Regions from separate parts of the Homo sapiens genome. Here regions 2, 3, 4 and 5 are each reported to be linked to region 1. Evidence: microRNA targets listed by miRTarBase, many of them from high-throughput screens and not tested one by one. Region 1 holds a microRNA gene; each other region holds the end of a gene's coding sequence.
Evidence for each region. Region 1 holds the annotated microRNA hsa-miR-6737-5p (UUGGGGUGGUCGGCCCUGGAG, at 1,756-1,776, opposite strand). A microRNA usually pairs through its seed, bases 2 to 8, with sites in the 3' UTR of a target mRNA and lowers its output. Matches are read on the target gene's strand: a 7mer-m8 pairs with bases 2 to 8, a 7mer-A1 pairs with bases 2 to 7 and ends in A, and an 8mer does both.

Region 1 (4,312 bases):
TTTCCTCCAGAGGTGACGGCCCTGACTGCTCCTTGTAAGCCAGTGTGATCTGCTCCATCACCAGGACCAGGAAGAAGCCCATGGCCAGGATGAACTCTTGCAGTGGGAACTGGAGCTGTGGGCAGAAGCAGCAGCAAAATGTTCAGGGAAGGAAGAGTGAGATGCAAAATCTGGTGAAAGCCCAGTTACACAGACCTAGGGTCTGACACAGACACAGGGCTACTCTCAGTCACACAAAGATAGAGTGAATTGGTAACACTGACACAGAATGATACGTACACACAGATTATGGTGTCACTCACAGTGTTACGTGTAGACCAAAGTTTCTCAGCTTTGGAACTATTAACATTTTGGGGCCAGGGGCAGTGGCTCATGCCTATAATCCCAGCACTTTGGAAGACCAAAGTGGGAAGATCACTTGAGGTCAGGAGTTTGAGACCAGCCTGGCCAACATGGTGAAACCCTGTCTCTACTAAAAATACAAAAATTGGCAGGGTGTGGTGGTGGATGCCTGTAATCCCAGCTACTCAGGAGTCTGAGCCAGGAGAATCACTTGAACCCAGGAGCCAGAGATTGCAGTGAGTCGAGATTGTGCCACTGCACTCCAGCCTGGGCAACAGAGCAAGACTCTTTCTCAAAAACAAAACAAAACAAAAACAAACAAACAAAAACATTTTGGGCCAGATAATTCTTTGTCATGGGAGCTGTCTTGTGCACTGTAGATTGTTTAACAGCATTTCTGATCTCTACTTACCAGATGCCAATAGCAGGCACAATGTTCCCTCCATCCCCCTCCCCATTGTGACAACTAAAAATATCCCCAGACATTACCAAATGTTTCCTGAGGGGCAAAGCCACACTCCTAGTTGAGAGTCACTGATGTAGACATACATGAAAAGGTCACACATTGCCCATCTCCCCAAATACTCATACATAGAGCCACATATCACAGGACATTCAGGCTTATACGCAGTCACACGGAAACACAGGTCACTCAGTCACAGACACACAAAGGGATACATCCAGTGTTACTTCCTCAGTTTTAGAGGAAAAAAGGAAAGAGCCCAGGATGACTTTCCTGCCCCACTATCCAACGGCCTCAGTTTTTCCTATAATAAACCAAGTCCTATGCCGTGGACTTGATCATTCCTCACAGCCCACTTCCTTGGGCCAAAGCCTAAAAAGGTTAGCAACACCAAGACCCAGGGAATCGCTTCCTATCCTTCTCAGGCCTACAGAGACCTCTATCTCCAGCCCTTTAGGAAAGTGGTGAGAGAGTGAAGATGATTCTTGGAGCACTTGCTGGTAGCTAGAACTGAGAACCCATAGAGCAAGTCACACACCTGAGAAAAAGTGTCTTACTGTCTCAACGGGAATGTAGGGGTCACACAGGGAATGGGGAAGGGGGAGGGAACACATAGAAAGAATTATGCCCCATAACCAAAAATCACAATTCATACCACATGCCAAAAGTCTTCCACACAGTCATGGAGTGGCACATGAATCAATCTCCACAAACCAACACTCCCAGAGGTGTGTGATTCCCCTCCCGCAAGTCACATGCCCAGGCCAGTGCTCACCGTCACGTGCAAGGCTGCCAGGGCCTCATCTATGGCAGCCAGGTAGTCAGGCAGCAGGTCCAGGAGACAAGTGGCCAAAAAGACGCCCCCCGCGAAACAGCTTACTAGGCTCAGGGCTTTCTGGCGGGAAGCTGGGTAGGGGTGAAGCACAGAGGGGAATAAGCAAACAAACCCCCTCCAGGGCCGACCACCCCAACCCAAACAATGGCTACCCTTGCCTTTCCCTCCTCCTTTGGTCACTCCCCGCCAGCCCCAGAGCCCTCCCTAAGCCAAGCATTCATAGCAGTGTGGGGAAAAGGAGAGGCTTACCTGAGCCTTCATGGTTAGCTCCTGGCCGGCGCAGCACACAGATGGGCACCAGGCTGCAGAGGAGGGTGAGCACCAGCAGCAGCACCAGGGCCCCCAACTTCACCTCCAGCCCCACAGGCACTGGAGGCTCTGAAGCTACCGCCTCGGGGCGCCACACCAGGAGCTCTGGCTCTCCCCAGGGCCCCATGATGCTTCTGGTAGCTCCAGTGACTCTCAGACCTAGGAAGACAGACCAGAGTGGTTGGGAAAAATCATGCAAAGGAAGATGGGGCAAGGAATGGGGAAGCTTGGTCAGCAGAGTGCAGCTCCCTGGCCCCAGCCACTTTGTGACCTTCCCCTACCCAGGGTGACTCATCTACTCCTGTACCAGGAACATTCCTCTCTTCTCACACTTTCTTTCCCAAGTGACTTATTCAGGGAGACTGCACGGGGGAAACCGAGGCATGAGAAAGGCTGTATGGATATCTCATCACCCTTTCACCTGGTGCCCCCAGAAAACTAGGAAACTAGGAGCCGCCTCCAAATAGGACCTGGAGCTGGAGTTCCCCTAAGGAATGTAGAGGCCGGGTCCCCAACTCCCGAACGGAGTGGGTGAAGCCAAAAAGGCTAGGGCTGTGCAGAGATGTCTTGGGTAGCTTCGTGGGCCACCTGGACAGGGTAAGTTTGGGTGCTGGATCGCTCCATCGTTCCCCTTTTCCCAGCGCAGAGAACAAGCGCTTCAGGCCCCAGGATGGGACCTAGAGGCAGATGGCCAAAGAGAGGGGCCCTAAGAGTCTGCGGTCCCGGGACGGACTGAGGCGACACTGAGGGCGGTGCCTGAAAGTCCGGGCTCCAGGAGGCGGGGTGCGAGGCCGCCAAGCGTCGCGGGAAGCAGATGAAGAATGCGTGAGCTGGGACTCCTGTTCCCGGGCCCGGGGAGGCCTGGGCAGCCGACATGGACCCCGCTGCCAGACAGCCCGCACTCACCTCGCGAGGGTCTCACTACATGGTCTCCGCGCGCTTCCGGCCTAGAGTCGGGAATTCCCGCCCCCTCCCATAGCTCCCCCCTCCCCCACAGGAGCCGCGTACCCACGACCGACTGCCAATGGCAGCACCGAGTGGGCGGGGACAGACCGGGAGTGACGTCAGTTAGGAGCAATCAGAGATCGGGAGCGGGAGCGGGCGGAGCAGGCGACCTGAGGAGAGTGAGCGAGAGCAAGAGCGGATATTAGGAAAAGGACCTCGGGGCTGGGGCCCTGGGGCGCATCTGTGGAGGACTGAGGGGCCGGAGCGGGCCAGTCAACAAAGGCTTTGATTATATGGATATTTTTAAAAGAGGGAGACCCCGCATTGTCAAGTCTTCCGGCCCACATCTGAAAACATCTTCCTGGCCTTGGGCCAAAGTCTCATCTGTCCCTCAGAAGGCTCTGACACCTCGTCAGTGCCTCTTGGCGCCCAAGGGAAAGCATTCCCCTCTTGGGACCAACTTCCTTGACTGCTTTCCCTCACCAGCACCCACAACAAGGAAAAAGACAAGGCAGAATTGGAAAGGGGGGAAAGCAAAGAGAGGGTATGTCTTGAAAATCATCCCTTCTCGACTACTTATGGCACTCAGTGCAGCCTCCGCCTTCTCCAGGTGGGTGGGGACGTGGTGGGACCGGAATGCGGGGTGCTGAAGCCGCGCCCAGGGAAGAGCCCCCAGCGCATTCCAGGATATCTGCGTACCGCGCCTGCGGGCGTCTGGCCGGTTCTCCCACCTGATTTCCAGCCCAGCTCCCGCCACCCTCGCCGGTCGGTTTGCTGTTTGCTGTTCCTTGAATGCCCCAAGGTAGTTGTTTCAGCTCAGGACTTTCACCGTTTCCTCAACCTGGATTCTTGTGGCCCACAACTCTGTGCCTTGAGAATCCTCTTCTAGCCTCAAGGGACGGTAAGACAAAAGAAAATTTAAAAAGGGGGCTCAGCTGTTCTTTTATGCAAAGGTGAAAAAAGCTTCATTGCCTAAAGAAGGGACAGATGGGATCTTGCTTCCTACAGGAAAATTAATTTTAAAAAAGAAAAAAAAAAGGGGGGACAGTGTAATGCTTCTCACAAGGCTCCAGAAACGAAGCCCAGTAATTCCTTAAGTAAAAGAGGAATGTGAAGACTTCTTAAGGGGCCGGGCGCGGTGGTTCACGCCTGTAATCCAAGCACTTTGGAAGGCCGAGGATGAATCACCTGAGGACAGAAGTTCAAGACCAGCCTGGTCAACATGGTGAAACCCCGTCTCTACTAAATATACAAAAATTAGCCGGGCGTGGTGGCGGGGGCCTGTAATCCCAGCTACTCGGGAGGCCGAGGCAGGAGAATCGCTTGAACCCGGGAGCCGGAAATTGCAGTGAGCCGAGATCGCGCCATTGCGCTCCAGCCTGGGCAACAACAGCGAAACTTCGTCTCAAAAAAAAAAA
Region 2 (4,312 bases), not on the chromosome of region 1:
CTGGGGAAATGACAGGATTGATTCCTGTTTGGAGCAGGCGACTTGTCCTGGCTGTGGCGACAGCTGTCTCTGGGAGCTTGGTCGGGGGTCTGAGTGTGGGGAGGGCTCTGGGTGACCCCTCATCCTCTGCTCAGCGGGATATCTCCCACTGGGACAAGGTCAAGGTCCTGCTCAACCGGATCTGCCGGAGAAGCCACCACCACCCTGAGCCCCCTGCCCCTCCTGATGGCTCTGACCCCAGGTGAGCCCCGTGCCCAGCCCAGGTTAGGGCACGGAGAGGAGACTGATAAGCCAGGATGCTGAGATTGTCATGCCAGTTGTCATTATTGTCCCCGCAAAACTTGAGAGGCAGTCTGGGAGGGGCTGCTAGAAGAAACAGTAGTTAAAACACCCCATTTACAGATAAGGAGGCAGGGTTCTGGGTGGGGTTGGGGGTAGTTGCTTTTCCAAAGCCGCACGGTGAGTCAGTGACAGCTAGGACCAGAATGTGGGAAATCTGCCTACCCTAGCTCAGCAACCCCTCACCCTCAATGCTGACATTTAGGCCACCTTCCAGGTTCGTGGGGAGAGCAAGGTGGAGCACAAAGGATTTCACAGTGGGTGAAGGCCATCATGCTTCGGGGCTTGTATTGAATCGTTCTCCAGGAGGAAGAAATACCAAGTCATTTAACAGCCCCGGGCTGCGCCCACACCCAGCTACCCACCAGCAGATAAACCACGTTCTCTCAACTCTAGGGCCATTGTTAGTTTTATTTCCCCCTTCTAGCCTAATGTCTTCTTTTCATTCCACAGGATCGAGTCCAGGGACCTCCCTGAAAGGCCTCAGTGCCGCCCCCACCGGAAGACCTTTATGCCATCATTAGTGGTTAAGAAGCAACGAGCAAAAAACCTTTCTGTAGGCTGAGACCTCTCGGTGCACCTGGTGACCCTGGGTGGAGGGGACTTGCTGTGAAGTCTTCCTCGCCCTCTGCCCTCTTGCTGCTTCTCCACATTGCCAGGAAAAGCTGCTGACGCCTGCCCTCCTCTCTTGAGTCGAGGGCTGAATCTTTCTCCTCTAAGCAGTCTGGTCAGGAACCTTGGTTTCTTGAGAGGCCCCCAAGATGCCGCAGCTCCAGGGCTCTTCCTCCTCACCAGAAATCCCTGGGCTTCCACAATGTGAACTCACTCATTGTCAGGTGTCCGTGGAGTGTTTTTGGCATGGTGACCTGTCTGGGCCCAGCATGTTGCAGATGTGTATTTATGCGCAATGGTATGCATATCTCTGTGTGACTGTCAGTGTTGCAAGCTGGCTGGATCCAACCATCTCTTCTGAAATAATGCATCCAAAGGGTTGATATTCTGGGGGAGGTCACTGCAGAAGGATGGAACTGACCTTTATTCCCCAGTGGGCAGTTACTGAGCTTTCCTCCTCAGAGCCATGCTGGCAGCCCTGGGACAGAGAACGGTGTGGCTTTGGCTGCCTCTGCATGGAATCTTGCCCCGGACTCCTGAAGACTGCACAAGGAATGAGGAAGATCAGGGACAACCTGGGAACTGAATAACTTTCAAAGCCAGTGCTCAGCTTCTCTGCTCCGTACTAGCGTTTACAGGTCTTAATTCAAACCAGATGCCTGTACTAGTTTTTAGACCCCAAGTCAACCTTTCTGAGCCACAGCTTCCCGCTGGGAATAATGATGCCTGCCCTATCTACCTCACAGACTTGTTATGAGGATAAAGTGAGATTAAACTGCCTCAAAGTGCTTTGTAAACCTCAGGTGAATAGGAAAGGGGAAAGTAAGGCTGGAGTGATGATGGGGAGGTCGGAGGATAAGGGGGGGCTGGGATTGCTAATGGGGACTAAAATGGCCAGTCTCCTGGCAAGATTTTGAGCAGGTCATTTCATTGAGGCCTCTTAGATTTCATATTTGAGAATTAGGGCACTGATTCCTGACTGGCTAGGCATGGTGGTCACTGGCTTGAGTCAGACCAGGAATGTCTCTTAGAAATGGTCACTGATAGGCATCCTTCTCCTCCAGTCAGGAGGGGCTGGTTTCCTTATCTGTTGCAGTCTCGACTGCCAGAGGGAGGCGAGCGTGGTAGGCAGTCGGGGGTCCCTTGTGTTTGGGGGGCCCAGCTCCCGCTTCCTTTGAGCCCGGAACCAATGATCCGAAGCCTTCTTTCCTGATGGGATTCTTTAGCGAGGACACTACCGAGGCGCGACTTCCTGACGCGCATCCGATCCGGGAAGGCGCACTTCCGCTCCCCAGTTGCCGCGGGATGGCAAGCCGGCGTGGGGGAAGGGAGAGGTCGGCGGAGACGAGGGAGGGACCATATCCGGGAGAGCGGCAGCTTCCGACCAGTGGTCGCGCTTCCGGAGAGGCGCTTCCGGTGGCGGCGGCAGCAGCGGCTGTGGTGGTTCCGGGTGTCTTTGTCCCCCCGGTGTCGCTGCCCTGGCCCGCAGGTGGGTTGGGGGGCCCCCTGCCGCCCCTCTGCCCCTTCGCCCCTCCGCCCCTCCGCTGGCCGAGGGGCTGCGAGGGCCGGGCGGCGAAGATGCGTGGGGCGCGGAAGGGGCCGAGCCCCTCTTTGGACTGCAAGTCCCGTCTCCCTGGCAACGGCCTCGGCCTTGGGGGCGGGCGGGAGGAGGAGAAACCGCGCGCCTCAGTCCTCCCTTGGTGGCCTCGCCGCGGCTCTGCTGGGAGACCCGGCGCTGGCGGCTGCTGAGGCCGGAGCGGAGGGCCCGGGAGCGTGGGAGCAGGAGGGTGGCGCGCAGCCGGTTTCGCGTTTGGTCGGCCAGGGAGCTGCCTTCCCACCAGCCGGTCGAGGAAACAACGGGTCGGGCTTCCGGGGAGAGGGCCCACACAGTCTCCTCGCCGGCACCGGCCTCCTCCATTTTTCCGGGCCTTGCGTGGAGGGTTTTGGCGGATGTTTTTGAACGAAGGAATGTCATCGGGGCTCTCTCGAGCCCCTCACCCCGCCAGCTACTCTGGGGGTGGCGTGGCATAGTGAGAGGAGCGCTAAGTTGTTGGGAGGCCTGGGTGTGAGTAGCAGTTTTGTCACTACCTGGTTATGTGGCCCCGGGCAAGTCTCTTGATCTCTCTGAGCATCAGTTTCCTTGTCTGTAAAACAGCATGACAGTATCATGCACCACTAGGTTATTGTCAGGGCAAACTGGAACAATGTAATTTCTTGTTTCATTTCTTTCTTCTCTATATTCTCTCCATCCATTGCTTTCATTCATTCTTATTACCCACCTCCCTGTTTTCCGAAATATCCTTACTTAAGATTCTCCACTTTTCCGGGTATAGATGGAAATTTCCCTTATAAGCTGTTAATTTCTTTCTTTTTGGATTGAAGCCTTTTCCCCACGACTCTGAAAGAGGACAGCGTTCCCAATGTCCCAGTTTAAGCGCCAGCGGATCAACCCGCTTCCAGGGGGACGCAACTTCTCAGGTGATCACTGTTCTCCCTACCTGGCCTCATCCTGGGAAGTATGTGCTCTGGAGTTAGTTTGGGGTTTCCCTGGTGGAGAGCAATTTGCTGCTGATGTTCCTCTGGAAAGCAGGAGATGCCCACAGTGATTGCCAGTGAAGCTCTGTGGAGGAGCTGGCTGGAGCTGTAGCCTTTGGATTTACCACATCCTTTGGTTGACTCGTGCTTAAGGTGGTAGGGGCGGTTCCTGGAGATTGCTTCTCTTTCCCCATAGGCACAGCTTCAACATCTCTTCTGGGCCCTCCTCCTGGTTTGCTCACTCCTCCTGTGGCCACAGAACTGTCCCAGAATGCCAGGCACCTTCAGGTAGGTTCGGCATCCCTTGTAGTAAGTTTCAGCCCTTGGGACTGAATGCATGGAGGCCTGGTGCTCTTTTTCTCTTACATAATAGTGTTTATCATTCCTGATCCCTCTCCTGGTAGTGGGCTAGTATGGGGTTGCCCAGATAGCCTTCAGACTGGGGCATCTTCATTTCTCGCTCCAGGGAAATCTTTAGCTTACGTCTTGGAATTAATGAACTGGAAATCCCAGAAGAAGCTTGTGGGTCAAGAACCAGCTCAAACATGCCCCAACCCCTAATGATGGAGTATGCCCACCACACCTGTACTTCACTCTGTGCGAACTCTTGATGCAGTACGCTGAGCTGGGGCGTGGGTTGAGATGAGACCTTCATGGCAGAGTGTGATTTTGTCCAGTTTCCTCCCTTTTACTTTTCAGCTGTCTCCTTCTCTTACAGGGTGGGGAGAAACAGCGGGTCTTCACTGGTATTGTTACCAGCTTGCATGACTACTTTGGGGTTGTGGATGAAGAGGTCTTTTTTCAGCTAAGGTAGGCTTGAGGTTGG
Region 3 (4,312 bases), not on the chromosome of region 1:
ACTGAAACAGAATCTCTAATAGAACATGATTCCCGGGGGTCTGTATACACGTTAAAGTTTTATTCTCCTTACAGAATTCCTGGTAATTCGGATGCACATTAAAATTAAAGTTTTATTTAGAGCATTGGTCCCCTAAGTTAGGTAGAAGTTTACTTTGAAGTTTGCAAGCCAGGGAAATGGTCAGAAAATTCTGCCCTGGAGAATACCAAAAGGCTGTAATTTATGTCAGCAGGGTGGAGGAAAGAGGAAAAGCAATTTACCCAAGCTGAGCAGACCTGCATCTTATCCCCCATTTCACCCTACCCGTTCCCTGCACAAAAATAAATAAATAAATAAATAAATAAATATAAAACAGAAGAGAAATGGCGCCAGGACATTCTTAACTTTTCTTGGATTATGAATCTATGCCACAATTACTATAGGCTTTAATTGCTCTTGACTGCAAGGCTATGTTCCTTTTGCCTTAGAACAGATAAGGAGGCTGTGGCACGTAAACATTCGGTGAATCTTAACATTAATATGCCAGTAGCATAGAAATATGCTATTTTTGAAAGCCCTTTGAATTGTGCACATGATTTTCCCTCTCCAGTAATAAATTGAGGGAAAAAATATGGATTGCTTAGGTAATGTAGTGATTATACAGCTTGTTATATAGATCAGGTTTACAGATCATCTCTCCATTCTTGACCTCTTAAGGTACAATTTAAAGCTGCGATTTAAGTAGAAATTATGAAAAGATGGAAGCACAGATAGATCTGTAAGCTGCCCACACTCTCTTTTCCTAATTTTTGAAGGCAAATAATGAACATGGTAACCCGGACGTGCCATACAGGTTAAAACCATGCCAGAGGGGCACATGCAGTCGAGACAAGCACAAAAACAGATGATCAGTTTAACCGATTTTGAAAGGCGGGCCCCTGAAAATTCAGAAATGACTATGTGTGGACTTTTTAAAGCCAACTCTGAAATGATTCCAAGGATCCTATAGAATAGTGAGTGCAATTAAAGACATTCAGTGTTATGTTCATTTTGACTCTTTATTCCTCGGAATGAAGACTGTGAGCTAAAATGTCTGTAACAATGTAGGATGTTTGTAAAAATATTGTTTCTCATGTGAGCTTCCAAGAGGGTCAGAGTGTCTGATTATAAAATCTCTGAAACTAAACTGAAAATGCCAGCATCTATACATATGTACTACATATTACATACATCTTTAGATGTATATTTATGTATTTTATGTTTTATATATTAAATACGCATATGCAAGATAACACATTTTAGTCGACACCATTGAAAACAGTTTTAACCAAGAATATTAGAACCAATGAAGCAGAGAAATCAAAAGGGTGGATGGAACTGCCAAAGGATGAAATTCTTGTGCTATACTCTCATGCTCTCATCTAGAGAATGTGAATATGAGAAAACATGGGTCATTCGTTTTAACATGTTAAGACCGTGCAGTCTGTCCTTCATGTCCATGGCAATAGAGGGTGAAGAACAGCTGGAGAACAAACAAGACCCCAATCCCCTCAGTTGGGTATGATCTAATGGTTCTCACCTAATCAAGAACAATAGAACTAGAGATAAAAAGGAGCTGCAAGATTTTAAAAGTTAACCAGCATTAGTAAAAGATAACTGTCATGCACATTTAAAGATAAGGTTTACATAACCTCATAACCTCCGAACTGTAACTAAGCTCATAGTCATCAAAAGTTAATTCCTAGGAAGAATTTGATTATAACAGTCTGTTCCATTATAAACACACTGTTTTTTAGCCAATTCCAAGGAGATTAGAGGTAGGTTTCACCAATCATGCATGGCAGGATCAGAGGGGATGCAAAGTCCTGGAAACTGACCTAAAATACTGCCAGTAAAATAGTGGGTAGTTGTGGGTGCCCTGCTCTTATGAACATCTGCTGAACCCTTCCTTGGTCTGATTCTAACCCAGGGTACAGAAGCCCTGACACTCTGGTAAGTGTTCAATCTGAGCAGCCTAATTTGACTTCATTCTGTTTGGGCGTCAGTCCAACTGGCAGATGTTCTTATAGAAGCTGATCTCCGACACTTTCCCTTTCTAATTTTCTGGCACCGTTGCCTCTGTTGCATGGGCTATTATCTCTGAAACTTTATCTCGGGTTATCCAGGTTTTGCTTGTTTTGTAGGCTTTAGTTTTCCCTTAAATCTTTCTGCCCCAAAGAAGTTCATTTGAAAAATACTAAATCACTGGTAACACCTTTAGTGCAAATATGACTTATCAAATAACTTGCCTGCAATTTTCCAGCCATTCATTACCTTTCCCCCACCCCCTCTAAAATATATAACTTCAGAAACAAAAATGCAAACACAAGGTCATCATTGTAAGCGCTATACAAATGCACCATTTTCTCTTACAGGTTGGACTTTATAGAATGAAATGCCAGAGATTTGATATTTATTATCTGAAATAGGTTTAACATTTGGAGAAATGTGTTCAAACACACAACCTTGGAAAGAAAAGCAAGCTGATAGGTCAGAGAACAGAGGGTGGGCAGAAAACACGATGTGCATAATTTTGCTGCGTGTTGGGCAAAAAGTTAGAAAACTGGGTTCTTTGGAGAATAAAGAGCTCTCAGATGAGGTAAAGGTAAAACACAAATAAATTTCCAACCCTTGATGAGGGCCACGAGATATCAATTTTAAATATATATGACCACAATATCAATAATGAAGAAATCTTACGTTTTATTGAATACTTTGGCCAGATCAGCCCCTTTGAAGGGATCACTAATTTAGGAAAGAAGAACAACAAACCATCATTCACTTTCCTGCAGGTTCATCGTTTTCCTAATTATTTCTATGGATCCTGCTTTATTCTTTCTGTAAATTAAGGGGCAGGAGGAGAGTTTCTATAATAGATCAGCAATGTCTGGTTCTTATCCAAATATTCCACCTAATAAGGATGTAAATTCTCATGGATTGGACAATCACTCTGCAACATTCCTGAGAATTGAATAATATAATAATCTTGAAAGTCAGCAGAGTGGATTATCCACTTTTTTTTTCTGGACTTGAACTTGTGAACTCAACAGTAGCACTGCAAAAAAGCAAACGTGCTAAGCACTTTGCCAGAGTAACCTTCCATGTAGACTTTTCATCTTAAATACACACAACTGAAAACAACTACAATTTTTGGAAAATTATGTACAAACCCGATACTTCTTTTGATTACATATAAATACAAATTAGCTATTTTTTTCCTAAAAAGTGGTTATAATAGTAAATAAATACAAAATAAATCTGACCATTATACTTCATGTGCTGGGGTTGAACCCATATAAAATGTACAACTAAATACATTTTAAATCTTTAAGGAATAATTCTCTGATTAAAATATTTGTTTTCCCAACTTCTTTTCGTAGATATAAATATATTTTCAAAATAGCTGTTTTTTTTTCCATTCCATTCCATAAATAAAGTCTTCATTGGGAAATATTAAAGTGTCAACTGGGGTGGGGTTTTTTTGTTTGTTTGTTTTTTTCTTTTTTCTAAAATATATATATATATATATATTTATGTATTTAATTTTGCTGTACTAGCGACACCCACAACCCTCCACAACCATGTCCTGATAGTTCTTTAATACAACCTTTTCATTCTCGTCAAGGTACAGCATCGAGATAGCACTGAGTTCTGTCGGGACACAGCATGCCTTAGGAATCTTAGAGTTAACAGAGTTGACCAACGTCTGAACAATGGCATGATTAGTGGAGTTCAGATGATCAGCCAGAGGAAAAGGGCATTCTCCGTGGCAGTAAAAGGCGTGATACCCCGGGGGAGCCACAATCCAGTCATTCCACCCCACGTCACTGAAGTCCACGTACAAAGGGTGTCTCTTACAGCTGGACTTAAGGCGTTTCCGCTGTTTGTGTTTGGCTTGACGTTTTTCTCTTTTGTGGAGAGGATGCCCTTTTCCATCATGGCCAAAAGTTACTAGCAATGGCCTTATCTGTGACCAGCTGTGTTCATCTTGGTGCAAAGACCTGCTTATCCTAACATGTCTCTTGGAGACACCTTGTTTCTCCTCCAAGTGGGCCACTTCCACCACGAATCCATGGTTGGCGTGTCCCTGTGCAGTCCACCGCATCACAGCGGGGGTGACATCAAAACTTTCCCACCTGCTTGCATTCTGATTCACCAACCTGGTGTCCAAAAGTCTGGTCACGGGGAATTTCGAGTTGGCTGTTGCAGGTTTTATGATTTCATAAATATTAATTCGGTGATGGAAACTGCTATTGTTTCCTAAAGCATCTTGCATCTGTTCTCGGAAAACCTG
Region 4 (4,312 bases), not on the chromosome of region 1:
GTGGACTGGGAATGATGAAAGGTACTTTGCACATGGTAGGTGGTCATTGGGTTTATTTTTCTTTTTGAATACAGAGTTGTTTTGCTCTTATTGCCCTGGCTGGAGTGCAATGGTGCAATCTCGGCTCACTGTAACTTCTGCCTCCCAGGTTCAAGTGATTCTTCTGCCTCAGCCTCCCAAGTAGCTGGGGTTACAGGTGTGTGCCACCACACCTGGCTAATTTTCCTATTTTTAGTAGAGACGGGAATTCACCATGTTGGCCAGGCTGGTCTCAAACTCCTGACCTCAGGTGATCCACCGGCCTCAGCCTCCCAAAGTGCTGAGATTACAGATGTGAGTCACCACGCCCAGCTACTCAGTTTTGTTGTTGTTGTTGTGTTTTTTTTGTTTGTTTGTTTTTTGTTTTTTGTTTTTACAGCTGAGGGAGCAGAGGTTCAGAGAGAAGAAGTTACTTTCCCAAGCTCACGCAGGTAGTAAATGGCTCACCAAGAGTGGACCTGGGCAGCCTATGGGTCTGGGTGCTCTGTCCTGCCTCTCCGTTTCACAGATAGGATGAGAGAGTGGGAAGGTGCTGAGATTTCAGTTCCAGATGGGATGTGGGGTCTGTAGCCCTGTTAAGTCCCCGCTCCCATGGCCACAGATGCCTATGGGAGGCAGGAGGCAGGTCTGAAAGTGAAGATGTATGAATTCAGCTCAGTTTTGGGAACTGAGGATTGTTCATTACTGGGTATGTACTCCAAGGAAAAATAAACTATTCTACCCCCAACACACCTGCACCTGTACGTTTATTGCAGCACTATTCACAGTAACAAAGACATGGAATCAACCTAGGTGCCCATCAATGGTGGATTGGGTAAAGAAAATGTGGTACATGTACACCATGGAATACTATGCAGCCATAAATAAAACAATGAAATCGTCCTTTGCAGCAACGTGGATGCAACTAGAGGCCATTATCCTAAATGAATTAACACAAAGACAGAGAACCAAATACCGCATGTTCTTGCTTATAAGTGAGTGCTAAACATTGAGTGTACATGGACGCAAATATGGGAACAGCTGACACTGGGGACCCCAAAATCAGAGAAGGAGGGAGGGGGTCAAGGGTCGGAAAAATACCTATTGGGGCCGGGTGTGGTGGCTCATGCCTGTAATCTCAGCATTTTGGGACGCCAAGGCAGGCAGATCACTTGAGGTCAGGCATTCCAGACCAGCCTGGCTAACATGGCAAAACTCCGTCTCTACTAAAAATATAAAAATTAACCAGGCAAGGTGGTGCACGCCTGTAATCCCAGCTACTCGGGAGGCTGAGGCAGGAGAACCACTTGAACCCGGGAGGCAGAGGTTGCAGTGAGCTGAGATTGTGCCACTGCGCTCCAGCCTGGGTGACCGCGAGTCTCGGTCTCAAAAAAAAAAAAAAAAAAAGAAGAAAAGAAAAAAAGAGAAAAACTACCTATTGGGTACTATGCTCACTACCTGTGTGACAGATTTATTCATACTCTAAGCCTCAGCACCACACAATATACCTTTGAAACAAACCTGCACATGTACCCCTTGAGTCTAAAATTAAAAAAAAAAAGGTCAGGTTCGTGGTAATTTTTTATTTGTAACTTTTCTAATTTTTAATTTCCAATTTTGCTTAATTCGAAAAAATACATACCACTTTAGAGCAAATAGGACACAACGTTAACAACTGATAACTCCAGGTGAAGGTTATATGGGGTTCACTGTTATATATACATATATATGTGTAATTTTTTTTTTTTTTTAAGACAGACTCTCTCTGTCACCCAGGCTGGAATGCAGTGGTACGATCTCCGCTCACTGCAACCTCCGCCTCCCAGGTTCAAGCCATTCTCCTGCCTCAGCCTCCTAAGTAAGTGGGATTACAGGCATGCGCCACCATTCCCGGCTAGTTTTTGTATTTTTAATAGAGTCAGGGTTTTACCATGTTGGCCAGGCTGGTCTTGAACTCCTGACCTCAGGTGATCCGCCTGCCTCGGCCTCCCAAAGTGCTGGGATTACAGGCGTGAGCCACCACGCCCAGGTAGGGTTCACTTTTTTAACTTTATTGTTTTAACTTCCCTGTAGATTTGCAAATTTTCAAAATTAAAAAAAAAAAAAAAGGCCGGGCATAGTGGCTCATGCCTGGAATCCCAGCATTTTGGGAGACAGAAGTGGTTGGATCGTTTGAGCCTAGGAATTCAAGACCAGCCTGGACAATACAGCGAAACCCCGTCTCTACGAAAAAATTAAAAATTAGCCGGGCGTGGTGGCCGGCATCTGTGGTCTCAGTTACTTGGGAGGCTGAGGCTGGAGGAATTCTTGAGCCCAGGAGCTCAAGGTTGCAGTGAGCAGTGATCACACCACTGTGCTTTGGCCTTTGCGAAAGAGTGAGACTTTGTTTCAAAAAAAGGAAAAGAAAAGAAACAGAATTTTGATGGCAAATATGGAAATGATCAAGTGTAACGGAATATTTTTGTCACAGGAGAGGCCAGAAGGGGACCGCTGAGAAACGGCATGGTGCCTGCAGGTGCTCAGAGTGTCCAGTAGGGGGAAGCAGAGTCCAGGTTCTGTCTCAGGTTAGGCTTTGAAGCGGGTGGCGGGTGGGACAGACTTTCAAGAATACAATGAATCCTGAGCGGCATGGCTGGAATAACAATAATTATTAAAAAGCGTCCTAGGAATATTAAGAAGGACAGCGATGAAAGAGGCTTTAGAAATAACCTAGTCCTTATTCGGCAGAAGGCAAGACTGAGTCCAAATAGATTTTTCCCAGATTTAACCCAAGGAATTCACGAGAAAGCTTGAAATAGAACCCAGGTCTCTATCTCTTTAGATGTATGGAAAGAAATAAAAGCCCGTTTTCAGAAGGAGAGCTTGCAAAATTTGGTTTTCTTTGGTAGGAAGTGAGTCTCTCTCTCTCTCTCTCTCTCTCTCTCTCTCTCTCTCTCTCTCCCCCCCCCCCCTCTGTGTGTATGTGTATATGTGTGTGTGTGTCTGTCTGTCTGTCTGCCTTGCCTCTTGGACACCAGCAAATGGTGTCAGTGGAGTTCAAGGAATGGTCCTCTTTCCACTGCAAATCTCTCTCTTGTTGTCTTGAACCCCAAAAGCATCCGATTTTATGTTCTGGAGGAGAGAGAGAGAGTCTGGGAGGTTAGAAACAGGAGCTATGGGAAACAGGAGGAAAGATCTGGGAACCATGAAAATTGTAATAAAATTGCTTTATTATTTTTAGTTACTACAAATATATATTATAATATTTACTAAGGAAAAAATCAGAACTCATAACAATAAGAACTTAAAAAATACCCACAATCTTATATACCAAAAGGTAAATGCTCTATATTTAAATACAGGTGTTTTTCATGAAGATGGTATGCAATAATTCTTATGAGAGCATTTTGTGATATGTAAAGTGCATGCAGTCCAGTGTCCAAGGGGTCATGGTTGTAAACAGCGGGTCGAGGGCGCTGTCCATGGTACTGAACCCGGGCAGATGAGGGGAGGAACATCTCTGAGCTTGTTTGGAAGTGCTAGCAGGGAAGTCCAGATAGATACTTGTATGCCTTTGACTGAAGCGTGGTCCTCCTCTATCAGAGAAGGTCGTCCTCTCGTCCTCTTCAACTGAGCATGCAGCTTTAGGAGGGACACATATGGGGCAGTGAGGGAGGACGGGGACACCCGCCTGCTCAGCCAGATCAACCAAATCAATCCTGGCGATCAATGGGGTGAAAGATGTTGCAGTCAGAGTACCCTCAAATCTGGAGCGTCTTTGAAAAATGAGCAGGAAAGCCTAGCCTGATATCATGACAAGCCCATTGGAGCGTCCACGGGTTTCTATTTGAGAATCTCCCAGCACTGCTGTCTCTCCTCTTTCTCCTTGGTAAGTACAGGGCTTGTTTCCTGTACTTACAATGGGAACATTGAGTTCCCATGGAAGGCTCTCAATGGGAAAATGCTCCACCAAGCTTAGCCGGACTGGGATCTCCTCACTCCCAGACTTCTCAGCTCCATGCCTTAAAATGATGTCGTCATTACCTGAGGCCTCTGAATTCGGATCTGAAAAGAGAGATAAAACCAAGTGAGGGCTCAGCCCATGAGGAATTTGGGATTCTGGAAGCATAAGGAGGATTGGGATAGGAAGTGTTCTGTTTAATTATTTTTATTTTTTATTATTTTTTTGAGACAGGGTCTTACTCTGCCATCCAGGCTGGAGTGCAGTGGCACAATCACGGCTCACCATGGCCTGTAACTTCTGGCCTCAAGCAATCCTCCCACCTCAGCCTCCCAAGTAGCTAGGACTACATGT
Region 5 (4,312 bases), not on the chromosome of region 1:
AACAATCCACTCACCTCTACCTCCCAAAGTGCTAAAACGTCCCTTTTTTTTTTTTTTTTTTTTTTTGAGACGGAGTCTCGCTCTGTCGCCCAGGCTGGAGTGCAGTGGCGCAATCTCGGCTCACTGCAAGCTCTGCCTCCCGGGTTCACACCATTCTCCTGCCTCAGCCTCCCAAGTAGCTGGGACTACAGGCGCCCACCACCACGTCAGGCTAATTTTTTGTATTTTTAGTAGAGACAGAGTTTCACCATGTTAGCCAGGATGGTTTCGATCTCCTGACCTCGTAAATGTCCCTATTCTTGATCTAAATCTTTAGGGAAATGAGTCATGAAAGTTGAGCCCCTACCATGTAATATTTTCTCCTCTTTGCTTGTGTTGAACATCCCCACAGGCTCCCTGGAGCAGCTCCTGCTCCTGGCACCCCAGGCTTCTGCCCTGGAGCCACACTGACCCATGGAGCCCCTCATCCTGCTGCCTCTGGTTCATCTCTGCTGGGATGCCAAAGTGCCCCTCGGCTCTCTGTCTTGTCATTCCTCACCCGTGTCCTCTTCTGGACCATCGCGGCAAGGACCAGTGAGTCTTTCCTGAGGTGGGTGCAGTGACCAGGATGGCCAAAGAAGCCGCAGGGAGGTGCGCCCCCAGGGCATGGCTGGTGGAATCCTGTTGTGTTAGCGCCCTTGGCAGCCTGAGTGTGAGGAGAGCATGGCAGCAGCCAGAGACCCGCGTTCTGGGTCTGACTCTTCCCCTCTGTGGGCCTCAGTTTTTCCATCTGTAAAGTGGAGGGAGGTGGCTTGGAACCCCTGGATGGTTGCTAGGCAACCTTCCTGCACCAACATCCTGGGGACCTTTCTGATTGATGCTGAGGGAAGGGAACTGTCTTGAACTCCCTTTGGCAGAAGAAACTGGCCCAGCAGCTTAGGCAATGGAGCAAGATGACTCCAGGGCCCTTCCTCAGACCTGACTGAGAAAACAGAGCCCACTAGGCACCAGCTTATGGAGGAGACTCACCCCTGGGAGAAAGCAGGGCTTCAAATCAGGCTGCCCACGAGCTGCCTGCGGTGATGAGGGACATGGAGACCCCTCTGGGCCTCTGGAGGGCCCTCATGGAGACCCCTCCAGAGGCCCAGAGCCCAGGTGACAGGCAGCAGCCTCCTGGAGTATGTTTCTGCCCATCTCTGGAAAAACCCAGGTAGGCACTGGTGGGAAGAGAGAACATGCATCCTCCTGCCCTCCGTAGCTGCAGGCCCTGGCAACAAGCCTGGAGGCTCAGCCATCCTCCTTGCTCAGGGGGACTCTCCTGCCCTAGTTCTCAGCCCTGCCTCTCCACCAGCTCCTAATTCTGGGCTGAGCTAGGAGAGCAGGTAAAGGCCTAGGGATCCCTGCAAAGATGCACAGCATGGGGTCTCGAAGACACTCCAGAGAATAGGACCCAGTCCTCACAAGCGCAGAGCAGACCCCCTCCCGCCCCCACCCCCACCCTTCCACTCTTCACTCTATCCCCAAAGCATTAAAGGACAAGACAGGTACGATACTGATAGAGAACATTCTCTACAAAAGTGGCAATGAGCCTGCAGGAGGGATTCGGGGTACAGTGGTGGGAGCACAGAGCCTGCTCCACCCCAGCACCAGAAGAACCAGGAGGGGCTGCGGCAGTAAACGGACGAGGAACAGGAGAGAAGGGGCAGCACCTGGGGCTCTGGGAGAAACAAGTCGGCACTTGGGGGTGGCCCCAGGCTCAGGCCCAGAGAACAGGGAGAAGAGCTGTGGTGGGCTCCAGATGGCGGTGGCAGGCAGCCAAGCCCTCAGTGTCCTGCAGTAGGACAGGGACCATCTCCTCCATGCCCCCTACTCTGGGCACATGTGTGGGAATGGGAACCCCCAGACAGACCAGAAAGAGGCCTTTGAGGGCTCTCTTTCCCCTGCCCCAGCCATGGGGGCCCCAGGAGATGCTGGGGGCTGAGGCCATGCTCCCAGCAGGAGCTGCTTCCCAAGCTGAGGTCAGGGATGGGGGGCCATGGCTGAGAAAGGAGGAGAGCACCTCTGCATGGGGTGCAAAGGGGCGCACACGTGTCAGCGGGCTCATCAGGGACTCTCCCACATCTGTGACCTCAGTCTGGCTGGAGAGCTTTGGGGGCATACGTCAGAGGACACATGCTGTGACCACCCTCTGAGCTGGCCTTTCCCCTGGTCTCACCACCATCAGAGGGCTGGGACACAGGTGAGCTCTCTTACCCCCGATCCACGCAGAATCACGCAACAGCCCAGTCCCTACCAGACCTGGAGGGAAACCTACCAAACACCACCCAACGTGAGTGTGCACACACGCACACATGCACACACACACACATGCATGCACACACACACATGCACACACATGCATGCACACACACAAACACGCACGCGTTCACGTGCACACACACGCACACATGTATGCAAGAACACACACACCCAAGCACACACCCGTGCTCACACATACCACATACTTACACACACATGCATGCACACACGCATACATGCACACAAACATGCACACGCACACAGCCCTGGTGACCTGGGGACAATCTGCAGTTTAGAGGATCCACTTTCTCCAGTGTCCACATCGCAGGACTTACCCACCCCAGGCCTGACACCCAGCCACACCCTGTTCTGCCTGTCCCAGGCCTGGGAGACTGAGGAGGTTGGCGGACACCTTTCTCTAGCCCAGCGCATGCCTGCCAGGCCTGGGGGCTATAATACTGCAGCCCATTGGTCTAGCACCTTGCATCTAGCGCCCTGGCCCTCTGGGGTCCCTGGGGGGCCAGGCTGCACAACGAAAAAGGGGGAGGTTGGAGGAAGACAGGCCAGGCTCCACCCCTGGATGAGCTGGGAAGGGCGTCAGTACCCCCACCCCACCCCAACCCGGCTTTCCAGCTCCGGGCCTTGACCACTAGGTGAAGGAGGGGGAGCTGGCTATGCTTGGGATGGGGTACAGACTGAAAGTTGGGGCATTTGGCTGAAGAGTCTGGCTGAGGAACTTCCCCTCTGGGGTGGACGGGAGGAGGGGAGGCAGCCCAAACTCTTCCCTTCACAACAATGCAGGAAGTGAGCAAGTCTCTGGCCTGAGCACAAGAGAACAAGACCATCAGGGGAGGGGTGGGAGAGGCCACGGCGCCCGGGACAGGTGCACCCTCCCGCATCCACCTCCCACACTCTCATCCAGTTCCGATGCCCCTGCCCTCCCTCTGGGGCAGGCCTCCCCCAAGTCTACATGTCCTTTACGGCTGCTCAGAATGGGTGGCTCAGGGCCTTCAAGACCCCTCAGAACTGGAGTTCCGGAACATTCTCTTGCCCCTCTGGTGCCTCCAGGCCACACCCTCAGCTTCAAGGTGCAGACAGACTTTCAAAGGAGTCGCCCCAACTGGTCCTTGCTCCTGGGGAAGGGGGCTGCAGGGCTGGCAACTGTGAGGACCTCGAGACCCCACCATAGGTTGTGGCAACTTGCAATTCATTTTGGTCTGGGGAGAGGAGCCCCCGGTTATCTGTGGAGGAAGAGACAGAAAGAAACAGATCTCACATGAGGCCCTCCAGAGGCATCATTTTCACCCAGGGCAGCCATCTGGACAACTTAGCCTCCCCATCTCTCGGCAGGCCAATTGTCAGGGATGGGGGACGCCAGCCTATGGGTGACCTCCCCATCCCCAAAACTCTGAACCAGCCTGCCTCCCCACACCCATCCCTGCCCCAGCCATTCAGGATAACGGCCATAGATACCTAAGAGGAAATGAGGACAAAGTTTGTTGGGCCTGTGGGATGCCATTGGGGAGGGGCCAGGGCAGGGGCTGGCCACAGCATGACCATTGTGGTGGCAGCCTTGGGCAACTATGACGGCCTTTGGAACATGAACTCTGCCTCCAGGGCTGCTGCTGACCCTCTTGGGAGCATTTGCCCACGTTCCTGATTGCAAAGTTCAGGAACAGTAGGTAAAACATCTCCCTAAGGCCAGGCGCGGTGGCTCACGCCTGTAATCCCAGCACTTTGGGAGGCCAGAGTGGGCAGATCACTTGAGGTCAGGAGTTCGAGACCAGCCTGGCCAACATGGCAAAACCCCATCTCTACTAAAAATACAGAAATTAGCTGGGCATGGTGGTGCACTCCTGTAATCCCAGCTACTCAGGAGGCTGAGGCAGGAGAATCGCTTGAACCCGGGAGGTGGAGGTTACAGTGATTGTGCCACTGCACTCCAGCCTGGATGACAAGAGGGAAACTGTCTCAAAAAAAAAAAAAAAAAAATCTGCCTGAGGTCTTGGGCAATTGAGAGGCCCTGCTGACTGCA

Region 2: miRTarBase lists C8orf58 as a target of hsa-miR-6737-5p. Seed matches in the 3' UTR shown: 7mer-A1 at 1,627-1,633.
Region 3: miRTarBase lists BMP2 as a target of hsa-miR-6737-5p. Seed matches in the 3' UTR shown: 7mer-m8 at 3,485-3,491.
Region 4: the mRNA of MUC17 is a reported target of hsa-miR-6737-5p. Seed matches in the 3' UTR shown: 7mer-m8 at 3,728-3,734.
Region 5: the mRNA of USH1G is a reported target of hsa-miR-6737-5p. Seed matches in the 3' UTR shown: 7mer-m8 at 3,023-3,029 and 7mer-m8 at 2,046-2,052.

The regions. Positions count from the first base shown.
Region 1 is chr1:153,960,640-153,964,951 of GRCh38, forward strand. MIR6737 (microRNA 6737) reads right to left here and starts at 1,781; the gene lies at 1,712-1,781. It overlaps SLC39A1 (solute carrier family 39 member 1), which reads right to left and starts at 2,898. Exons shown (of 4, transcript NM_001271958.2): 1 at 2,856-2,898; 2 at 1,890-2,108; 3 at 1,581-1,711; 4 at 1-115. The coding sequence starts at 2,076. RefSeq lists enhancers at 2,182-3,136, 2,465-2,534, 2,486-3,685, 2,575-2,634, 2,785-2,954 and 1 more.
Region 2 is chr8:22,602,403-22,606,714 of GRCh38, forward strand. C8orf58 (chromosome 8 open reading frame 58) reads left to right here. Exons shown (of 7, transcript NM_001013842.3): 6 at 135-241; 7 at 793-1,740. The coding sequence ends at 904. CCAR2 (cell cycle and apoptosis regulator 2) reads left to right here and starts at 2,355. Exons shown (of 21, transcript NM_001393997.1): 1 at 2,355-2,440; 2 at 3,334-3,429; 3 at 3,683-3,774; 4 at 4,205-4,296. The coding sequence starts at 3,372. LOC107986876 (a long non-coding RNA gene) reads right to left here and starts at 2,598. Exons shown (of 1, transcript NR_160769.1): 1 at 731-2,598. RefSeq lists enhancers at 2,073-2,182, 2,189-2,689 and silencers at 2,353-2,652, 2,713-2,772.
Region 3 is chr20:6,778,349-6,782,660 of GRCh38, reverse strand. It overlaps BMP2 (bone morphogenetic protein 2), which reads right to left. Exons shown (of 3, transcript NM_001200.4): 3 at 2,415-4,312. The coding sequence ends at 3,572. Among named protein-coding and RNA genes, the nearest start is that of BMP2, 13 kb to the right of the region's middle.
Region 4 is chr7:101,057,753-101,062,064 of GRCh38, reverse strand. MUC17 (mucin 17, cell surface associated) reads right to left here. Exons shown (of 13, transcript NM_001040105.2): 13 at 3,206-4,062. The coding sequence ends at 4,021. It also overlaps the pseudogene RN7SKP54. Among named protein-coding and RNA genes, the nearest start is that of TRIM56, 26 kb to the left of the region's middle.
Region 5 is chr17:74,914,559-74,918,870 of GRCh38, forward strand. USH1G (USH1 protein network component sans) reads right to left here. Exons shown (of 3, transcript NM_173477.5): 3 at 1,525-3,518. The coding sequence ends at 3,515. Among named protein-coding and RNA genes, the nearest start is that of USH1G, 6.5 kb to the right of the region's middle.